Homo sapiens: one gene and its partner. The protein of the gene in region 2 interacts with the protein of the main gene of each other region in a pairwise test. Each region holds a gene or a part of one and is shown on either strand. Other genes may lie near its edges.

Evidence for each region. Proteins that work in one complex are often made in the same cells at the same time.
Region 1: the proteins of ABCC5 (region 2) and RBP5 interact in a two-hybrid assay, tested with the Homo sapiens proteins (one large-scale study listed by BioGRID and IntAct).

The regions. Positions count from the first base shown.
Region 1 is NC_000012.12:7,122,293-7,127,028, reverse strand, and holds the end of RBP5 (retinol-binding protein 5), read left to right. Parts: intron 1-2,298; coding exon 2,299-2,400; intron 2,401-2,854; coding exon 2,855-2,908; 3' UTR 2,909-3,343; downstream 3,344-4,736.
Region 2 is NC_000003.12:183,920,453-183,924,709, forward strand, and holds part of ABCC5 (ATP-binding cassette sub-family C member 5), read right to left. Parts: intron 950-4,257; coding exon 848-949; 3' UTR 1-847. UniProt on the Homo sapiens protein: ATP-dependent transporter of the ATP-binding cassette (ABC) family that actively extrudes physiological compounds, and xenobiotics from cells.

The DNA.
Region 1 (4,736 bases), on a different chromosome or scaffold from region 2:
AAGAGCGAAATTCTATCTCAAAAAAAAAAAAAAAAAAAAATACAAAAGTACAAAAATTAGCCGGGCATGGTGGCGCATGCCTGTAATCCCAGCTACTTGGGAGGCTGAGGCAGGAGAATTACTTGAACCCGGGAGCCAGAGGTTGCAGTGAGCCAAGATCATGCCATTGCATTCTAGTCTGGGTGACAGAGCAAGACTCTGTATCAAAATGATAATAATAAAGTACACAGGGGGATGTATGTAGTTTCTCTACAGATACTAAGCCATTTTATTCAGCAGATTTAGTGAGGTGGGGGTCCTGGAACCAATTTCCATTTGAATGCCAAGGTCAAATTCAAATTCACTGTCTTCCTATCCAAACCTACCCCACTTTTATATCTACTCTCTCCACTAATGGCAATAACCAGCCAGGCCAGAGACCTGGGAGTCATGGTCAATATCTCTTGTTTCCTTACCTCTAGGCTCCCAGCACACACACACACACACACACACACACACACACACACACACACACACACCACCACCACCACCACCACCACATCTAATCGGCCAAGAAATCTTTGTAGCTTTTCTGCATTACCCAGTATAGCAGCTGCTAACTTCAGATGGCCGTTGAATACTTGAAATATAACTAGTCCAAATCTAGATGCTGTAAGTGGACTTTCAGACAATGCCAAATAAAAAGAAGCATTTCGGAAATGTTTATATTGGCTGCATGCCGAAATAATAATATTTTGAATATTTTTGGTTAACTAAAATATATTATTTAAATTAATTTCCCCTATTTCTCTTTACTTTTCTAATATGGCTCCTGACCCATTTTATTTCTGTTGAGCATCACTCTTCTAAATGGCTCTCCTGTGTTCCCTCCTAACCTTTCTCTATCACCACCCTAATTCAGGCCTTCATTTCCTGGTGCCTGAAATTGCTTTTTTGTGTTTTTGTGTTTTTTTTTTTTTGGTAGAGGTGGGGTCTCACTGTGTTGCCCAGGCTGGTCTCAAACTCTTGACTTCAAGTGATTCTCCCGCCTCAGCCTCCCAAATGCTGAGATTACGGGCCTAAGCCACTGCACCCAGCTGGTTCTCACGCTTAACCCTCCTCTAATCTGCATGCTGTAGCCACAGGGTCTACTTAAAACATAAATGTGATCATGTCACTCTCTGACTTACACCCTTTCAGTGATGATCTATTACATTACATCATCTGTTACACTTAACTCAGCATACAAGGGTCTCTGTGAATCAACTCTTCAATTGCCTCCACCACATATACTCTAGGTTAGAGCCCTTCAGAACTAATTGCCTTTCTCTTTTACCGCTATTTCTAGCTGTTTCTTTCCTTGCTAGAAATTTCCCATTCTCTCCAATCTAATTAACTCCCAACTTCCTTAAAGATTTCACTCTGCCCGCCCCACTGCCATCCCTCACTCTTGCCTGGTGTCACAGTTACCTATTTACTGATCCTCTATCTCTTCAAGACTCTGAGCTCCTTGTTTGGGGCCTATCCTAAAGGAGAACTCAATAAAGGTTGATTGGAATGCTCAGGCCCAGAGGGGCTGACCCTTTATTTCTAAGGATACTTCAGCTGTTCTTGAAACCGAGAAAGAGGAGAAATGAGATTACCTGGTAGGATTCCCAACCAATCTCTCTTTTTTCTCAAAAGTCCCTCTAGGTCAGCCAGAAGTATCCAGAGGAAAAAGTCTCCATTCTTCATAAATGCCCTCCCCAATTTCACCTCTACTTATCCTGCTACCACCCCTGCTCTCCCCTAAAGGTCACTGTAGACAACTTTGGGCCCCCCTCGGTGACCTTTAGGAGTGGAAAGCTGGGTGTGATGGTTCATGCCTATAGTCACAGCACTTTAGGAAGCGGTGGCGGGCGGATCACTTGAGCTCAGGAGTTTAAGTCCAGCCTGGCCAACATGGAGAAACCCTGTCTCTACTAAAAATACAAAAATTAACCCGGTATGTTGGTGCACGCCTGTAATCCCAGCTACTCTGGTAGCTGAGGCATGAGATTCACTTGAACCCAGGAGGCAGAGGTTGCAGTGAGCCGAGATCCTGCCACTGCACTCCAGCCTGGGTGACAGAGCAAGAACTTGTCTCAAAAAAACACAAAAAACAAAGAGTAGGGTGGAAAGGGAGTCCTGCTGAATCAGAGCAGCTCCCTCGCTCAGTGGAGGGGCTGCAGCAGACAGTATCTGCTGTGGAGTAAAAGGGGGAGCCCATTCAGAGTGAGATGGGAAGCATTTTGAGTGTCCTGCCTCCTAATCTTTCTTTACTCCCTCTTTCCCCTATAGACCATAGTAACCTGGGAGGAGGAGCACCTGGTGTGTGTGCAGAAAGGGGAGGTCCCCAACCGGGGCTGGAGACACTGGCTGGAGGGAGAGATGCTGTATCTGGTAAATGGGGTGGGGGCTGGGTGTCTGGGAGAAGGGCCTCCAGCTATAAGGCATCCCCTTGTCCAAACCAGATAGGTCCACCACTCTTCCCCCAGCCCAGCCCCAATCCCTATCCAAGGAATTGACCAGGGAGGGAAAGCAAAAGCACTGGGAGGAGTGGGGAGAGGAAGAAACAGAGTGGCCAAGGTGGGCCCTGGCTACGAGTCGGATGAATGCCCATAAATCATCACTGGCGAGATGGAGGCTTCAGCCACTCACATCCCCTGACCCAGCCACCTTCCTTCCTGAGGGGTGGAAAGTTGAGGATGTGGAATAATGATACAATTGCCCATACATCAAACACTCAAGCTGCTGTATCCGGAAGGAGTAAATGGAGGTCAAGGACCTTGAGAAAGGGGCTCTGGCTGGCAAACGCCCTCTTTCTCTCTCCCCCTCACTTCCCCTCTCTCCCCAGGAACTGACTGCAAGGGATGCAGTGTGCGAGCAGGTCTTCAGGAAGGTCAGATAGCCGGAGAGGAGCCAAGATCCCTCCAGACAGCACCAGCTCACAGACGCTCTTGTTGTGCCCCCTTCAAGCCCAGATTGTGCCAGGTCAGCTGTCCCTTCCTCTGGCCACCTTTCCTCCCTCTGGGTCCCTCCTCACCCCTCCCCGTGTTAATCTGTAACTTGCAGCCCCCAGGCCAAAGTCCTTTCTCACACTCCACTGCCCAATAGTGACCTCACTTCCAGGTCAAGGTCTGGCGTCCCAAATGAAAGAAGCAGGCAAAGGGAAGGAGCCCCTGAGAACAACCAATCTCCGCTCTCTCCTGTCCATTTGACCTCTTCTTTTCCTTCTAAGAAAGAACTAAGCTTTGGGCATTTGGCGATTAGTGAAAATTCTATCCTGATGGACTTCTGGAAAACTGTGACTGGGGTTCAAGAGTTTAAACAGGGGCTACTGGCAGAGTCTTTTTGTCCATTTCTTTGTCCTTATCCTTGAGAAAGTCTCATGTGCTCAACAAAACCAGGCCCAAGACACAGCCCCCCACACACAGGGTTCAACGGACTCCACGGTTCTGACATCTGAAGGCATCTGGCCATTTGATACTTCCATCCTATGTGTTGGGAATGAGGGATGGAATGGGGTAAGACCTTTGTCCAGTGCTTGGGGAGGCGGGGAGCTTCTAAATGGTGACCTGTCCTCCGTGTCTGCTTTGGGAAGGGCAAGCAGCAAGAAAGCCAGAAAAAGCTGAAAAAGGAAGTAGACGGAGGATGTGAGGTCAAGGAATAAAAGACAGTAATACAGGGGTGTGAAGGCATAGGAGGGAGAAGCCCAGCAGTCCTGGCTATAGGGACCCTCTGCTCAAAGGCCAGCAAGGCTGGAGACCAGAGATAAAGAGGAGAGCTGAGGACAGCAAGGGTCCCAGAGTTGCTGCCTTGGAAAACAGCCCAGAAGGGTGGAGCTGGCTCAGGGTCAAGGCCAGCTCCAGCCTCTGGCCTCCTCTCCACCTCCAGGGGCCTTGGCTCTTTCAGAATAAAAGTCCTAGGGGGCCCAACTATCAGAGTGAAGAGGGCTCAATGTGAGGGTGGGAAAAGAGCCTGGGGGAAGGGTTGAGGGAGTTGGAAAGTCCCTGGCCCTCATCAGATGAAGACTCTTGACCCATCTTCCTGCAACGGCTGGCCCCCCCATGCACACAAGACAGTCACTAGGGCTCTGGCCAAGAACTAGGGGCTTGTGATACTGATCCTACCACATGCTCTGGAATGAATTTGGAATAGAAAAAAAAAAGGAACTCAGGGTTGAATGGAAAATCTTATTCCCTGCCCAATCTCTGCAGATGTCCACAGTAGAGTGGAAAGCCCCTTCTTTGCAAAGCCACCCAGCAGAAGCTCTGAGGGCTGCTGGAATCCACCTTGTCCCATTCCAAGGCACAGGAGGATGCTCCGTGTGTACTCGCCCATTGCCCACATCTCCAGATCAACACAGTGTCCTTGCTCTTGAGTTCACAGTGCATGTCCAAGCCTCTTCCCACAGGACGGTCCTCCATGCCCTTCAGTGACCATGCTGGTCAGTGGAGTCTCGGCAGAGGCCTTGACTCAGGAACTTGTAGGCCCCCATGGTGGGTTTTTCTAAATATTTCTATATATTTTTATTTTTCCCCCAAAGGTTGACACTTCTTACCATGGTGGTTTTAAGACCCAAGCTAAAGTGGGCTCAATCCCTCAAAACTCCCCGTGATGTGGGCGTCCAGAACATGGCCACTGCAGGACCCCATCCTCCACTCGACCACACTTCTCCAGGGGCCAGACCACACCCAAAGGCCTGGAGATCCCCTAAGGGAGCACAAGCATCAGGG
Region 2 (4,257 bases):
GTGGGACTCTCTGTGGATAGACTGATTCTTGTTTAGAAACAACAGCAAAAAGAAGAAGGCAGGAAAGAAACTCCCCGGCTCGGAGGAATGTCTCTGTGATCCCCATTCTTGATGGAGGGAGTGAAAAGGGGCCTGGGCTTCGCCCCGCTGCTCTCCTGACAGAAACAGTAAGTGACACCAGGACAGAAGGCAGGAGCCCTGAGAACTCACGGCGCTCTGCATGGTCTCCAGCCGCCCACCCGTCTCCAGCCACCCCTGGAGCGGCCGTGGGGAGGCGGCAGAGGGGGCTGTCGGAGGGCCCACTATTGCCACACGTCTTCCTTTGGACACCCAGAAAACCTGGCACCGTGAAACCACCAGCTAGAGAAGAATGAAATGCTACTCTTCCTACAGTCTAATAGCAAAACCAGATCTCTAGTACAGCAAACTGTACAAAAATGATAGAAAGGAATATGCACTGTTATTAGCACAGTGCTTATTTTAATATAAAATAAACAGCTTACATTTTCACTGTAAATATAGGCTATGTACAGAATTATATATAGATATAGCTACACGTATAAAGCTTCATTATAGGCCTCTGATACAATTATAATAACGGTTCCCTGAACCTTTTAGAGTGCAATTAAGAACAAAAACTAAATTTTGTTTACATGAATATGGAATAAATACAATAATCAAAATATGACTCTCCCTAAAAGTGAAACACACAAGCCAATCCGGAACTGCTGTGCGAAAGATAAAATCGAGAAAGGCAAGGTTTCGGTAGGAGGACGCGATGAGGGGCCCGCCCCAGGCAGGGAATGGCAATGCTCTAAAGAAAAGAGACTTCGTCAACAGGGAGGAGTCAGCCCTTGACAGCGACCTTGTTCTCTGCAGCAGCAAACATGGCATAGAATCGGGAACTGTCGTTGGACAGAAGGACCGATGGGGTGTCAAACTCCACCACCTGCAAAAGAAGGAGACGCCGTCAGGACACAGCTCTGGGTCATGCAGGGTGATTCAGAGGATCCACGGCTCAGTAAGTGCCAGTGCCCTCTGAGGGTAGAATCTGGGGACAATTCAACTAGCCCTGCGTGCACCTCCCCCCTTATTTTTTTATTTTCAACTATCCAGGGAGTAAGGGAAAGGACAGAGAAAATGACTTCCAGCATTTTTGTAGTATGTGGTTTTGCCTAATAAAGTAGTATCATAGCAAAAAAAAAAAAAGAAAACGACTTCCAGACCTCCTTCACATAAATCCAAATTCCTTCAGCCTTGGGAGTGAAGGAACCAACCAACCAGGTCTATAAACTGCAGGAGGCTGGTGGCTCACGCCTGTAATCTCAACACTTTGGGAGGCTGAGGTGGGCAGACTGCCTGAGGTGAGGAGTTCAAGACCAGCCTGGCCAACATGGTGAAACCCTGTCTCTACTAAATATACAAAAATTAGCTGGGCATGGTTGGCGGGTGCCTACAATCCCAGTGACTTGGGAGGCTGAGGCAGGAGAATCGCTTGAACCCAGGAGGTGGAGGTTGCAGTGAACTGAGATTGTACCACTGCATGCCAGGCTGGGCGACACAACGAGACTCTGCCTCAAAATAATAAATAAATAAATAAATAAATAAATAAATAAATAAATAAATAAAAAACAACAGGCTGGGTGCGGTGGTTGATGCCTGTAATCCCAGCACTTTGGGAGGTCGAGGCAGGCGGATCACCTGAGGTCAGGAGTTCGAGACCAGCCTGACCAACATGGTGAAACCCTGTCTCTAGTGAAAATACAAAAATTAGCTGGGTGTGGTGGTGCATGCCTGTAATCCCAGCTACTGGGGAGTCTGAGGCAGGAGAATCGCTGGAACCCGGGAGGCGGAGGTTGTGGTGAGCAGAGATCGTGCTATTGCACTCCCAGCCTGGGCAACAAGAGCGAAACTCCGTCTCAAAAAAATAAATAAATAAATAAACAAAATAAAATAAATAAACTGCAGGGGAGAGAAGTTGCAGCTCAAGTCAAGGGCACACCAGACAAATGCCATTTTGTTATGCAAGCTGATCTAACCTTATAGAGGGAAATGGAAGAGCTCAGAATGTCTAGTTGTCAGGGGAGAAAAAGGAAGTCAGGGAGTGACTTAGTCAGGTGGCCATTCCTATGATGGACTTCTATGTAGCCGTGGAAAATCATGTGGCAGCAGAACCCTGAATGATACGCTGGCAGAACCCACCTCCTGTGGCAGAGGCTGAAATGCATGTACTCAACTTTCTCAGCCGCCCCCGCCACAGGGCAAAGGCATGGAACATAACCTTGTTTAAGGAGATGTAAGAGGAAGTCTCCTTGGTGCTTTAGGAGAGGGTGTCCTGCTCAGTGGACAGGCCACAAGGAGAACATAAGCGTGTCCTTCCTTTGGACACGTGTCCTTCCTTTGGTTGGGTGCTTGAGCAGGCATCCTGTACCAGCAGGGGAAGGTGAGTACTGGCTGAGAGTGATACAGAGCCCCACACTGCTGAGCTGCACAAAAACCAACCCATGTGGGATAACAAAATCCCATCCTCCAAACCCCTTTTAGTCTGGTATTTTGTGTCTGCGGCAGAGAGCATCCCATCTGTTGGAGTCTGTGTGTGCAGATGCAAGAAAAACACAGCTGGGGTAAGTCAGTGTATTACAATGCTCGTCTCTGGGGGTAAATGGCTTATCATCCTGTTTTTGCCTTTATGCTTTTCTGGTGTGTGTGTGGTTTTTTTTTTTTAGGCTTTCCTGAAATTACAAGGAAATTTTAATTAGCAAGAAAAAAATTAAGGGAAGAGAAGGATAGAGTCCCTCATAAAGAGTGAATGGGCTCCCCACTCCAAAACATCAAGCCACCCATCGAAAGAAAGGGGTCTCAATTTGTGTTCTTAAGAAAAAATTTCCAGCTGGGCACAGTAGCTTGTGCCTGTAATCCCAGCACTTTGGGAGGCTGAGGTGGGCGGATTATCTGAGGTCAGAAGTTCGAGACCAGCCTGGCCAACATGGTGAAACCCTGTGTCTACTAAAAATACAAAAATTAGCCAGGCATGGTGGCACATGCCTGTACTCCCAGCTGCTCAGGAGACTGAGGCAGGAGAATCGCTTGAACCCCGGAGGCGAAGGTTGCAGTGAGCCAAGATTGCACCACTGTACTCCAGCCTGGGCGACAGAGCGAGACTCTGGCTCAAAAAAAGAAAAAAAGAATTTCCCAGAAGATGTTCTTGGTCCCATCTATTATACCTTACTAGGCTCTATTTTAACACCTACTTACAAAGTAGTAGCTCAACGTATCTTATGTATGACAGAATCTCAGTCAACACTTAGTTTAAGGCAAACAAAGATAGTCACAAAAAACACTAGTGTGAAAATAATTTCAAGATGAGGAGAAAAATCCTTAGCCCCCAAGTTCTCTCAATTCAGCTTTGAAGCCCAGGCTGAACCTGCGCTATTTAACCTTTTCTCAATATTTCTCCACAATTTAGACAGTGTGCTGGCAGTGCGGTTGCTGGCCTGAGTCCTGTCCCATCTCCTCCGCTTCCTTTTTTTTTAAATCCCACCAATTTTTACTGTTTGCTTTTTTTTTTTTTTTTTTTTTTTGACATGAGGTCTCACTCTGTCACCCAGGCTGGAGTGCAGTGGCGCTATCTCAGCTCACTGCAACCTCCGCTGCCTCCCAGGGTTAAATGATCCTTCCACCTCAAATTCCTTAGTAGCTGGGATTACAGGTGTGTGCCACCACTCCTGGCTAATTTTTTGTATTTTTGGTAGAGACGGCGTTTCGTCATGTTGCCCAGGCTGCTCTTGAACGCCTGAGCTCAGGCAATCTGCCCGCCTCGGCCTCCCAAACTGCTGGGATTACAGGCATGAGCCACCGTGCCCGGCCTACTCCACTTCCTATGGACTTTCCCTGAGACTTTGTCTCCTCATGTGTAAAGCAGAATCCAGGCTATGTCTTTCTCTAGGTTGTTGTGATGACTGATGGTATGTTGAGAGATTATATGTAAAGCACTAAGCACAGTGCCTGACACACAGTAAACATTCAGTAGAAGTAGCTATTATAGTAGCTGTCACTGTGGGAGCTTCTACAATAGAAGACATGTTACCCATTATAAATGGCTTGCTATTTCCTCCAAATTATTAATTTACTTGTATCCTAGGGGCATGCAAAAGAGGTATTTGTCTAACATAAATGTACTTAACATCACCTGTATAAAGAACTGTAGTACTAAGCACTGCTGGGGCCCTAAAGATGAATGAGCGGTGACTCTGCCCT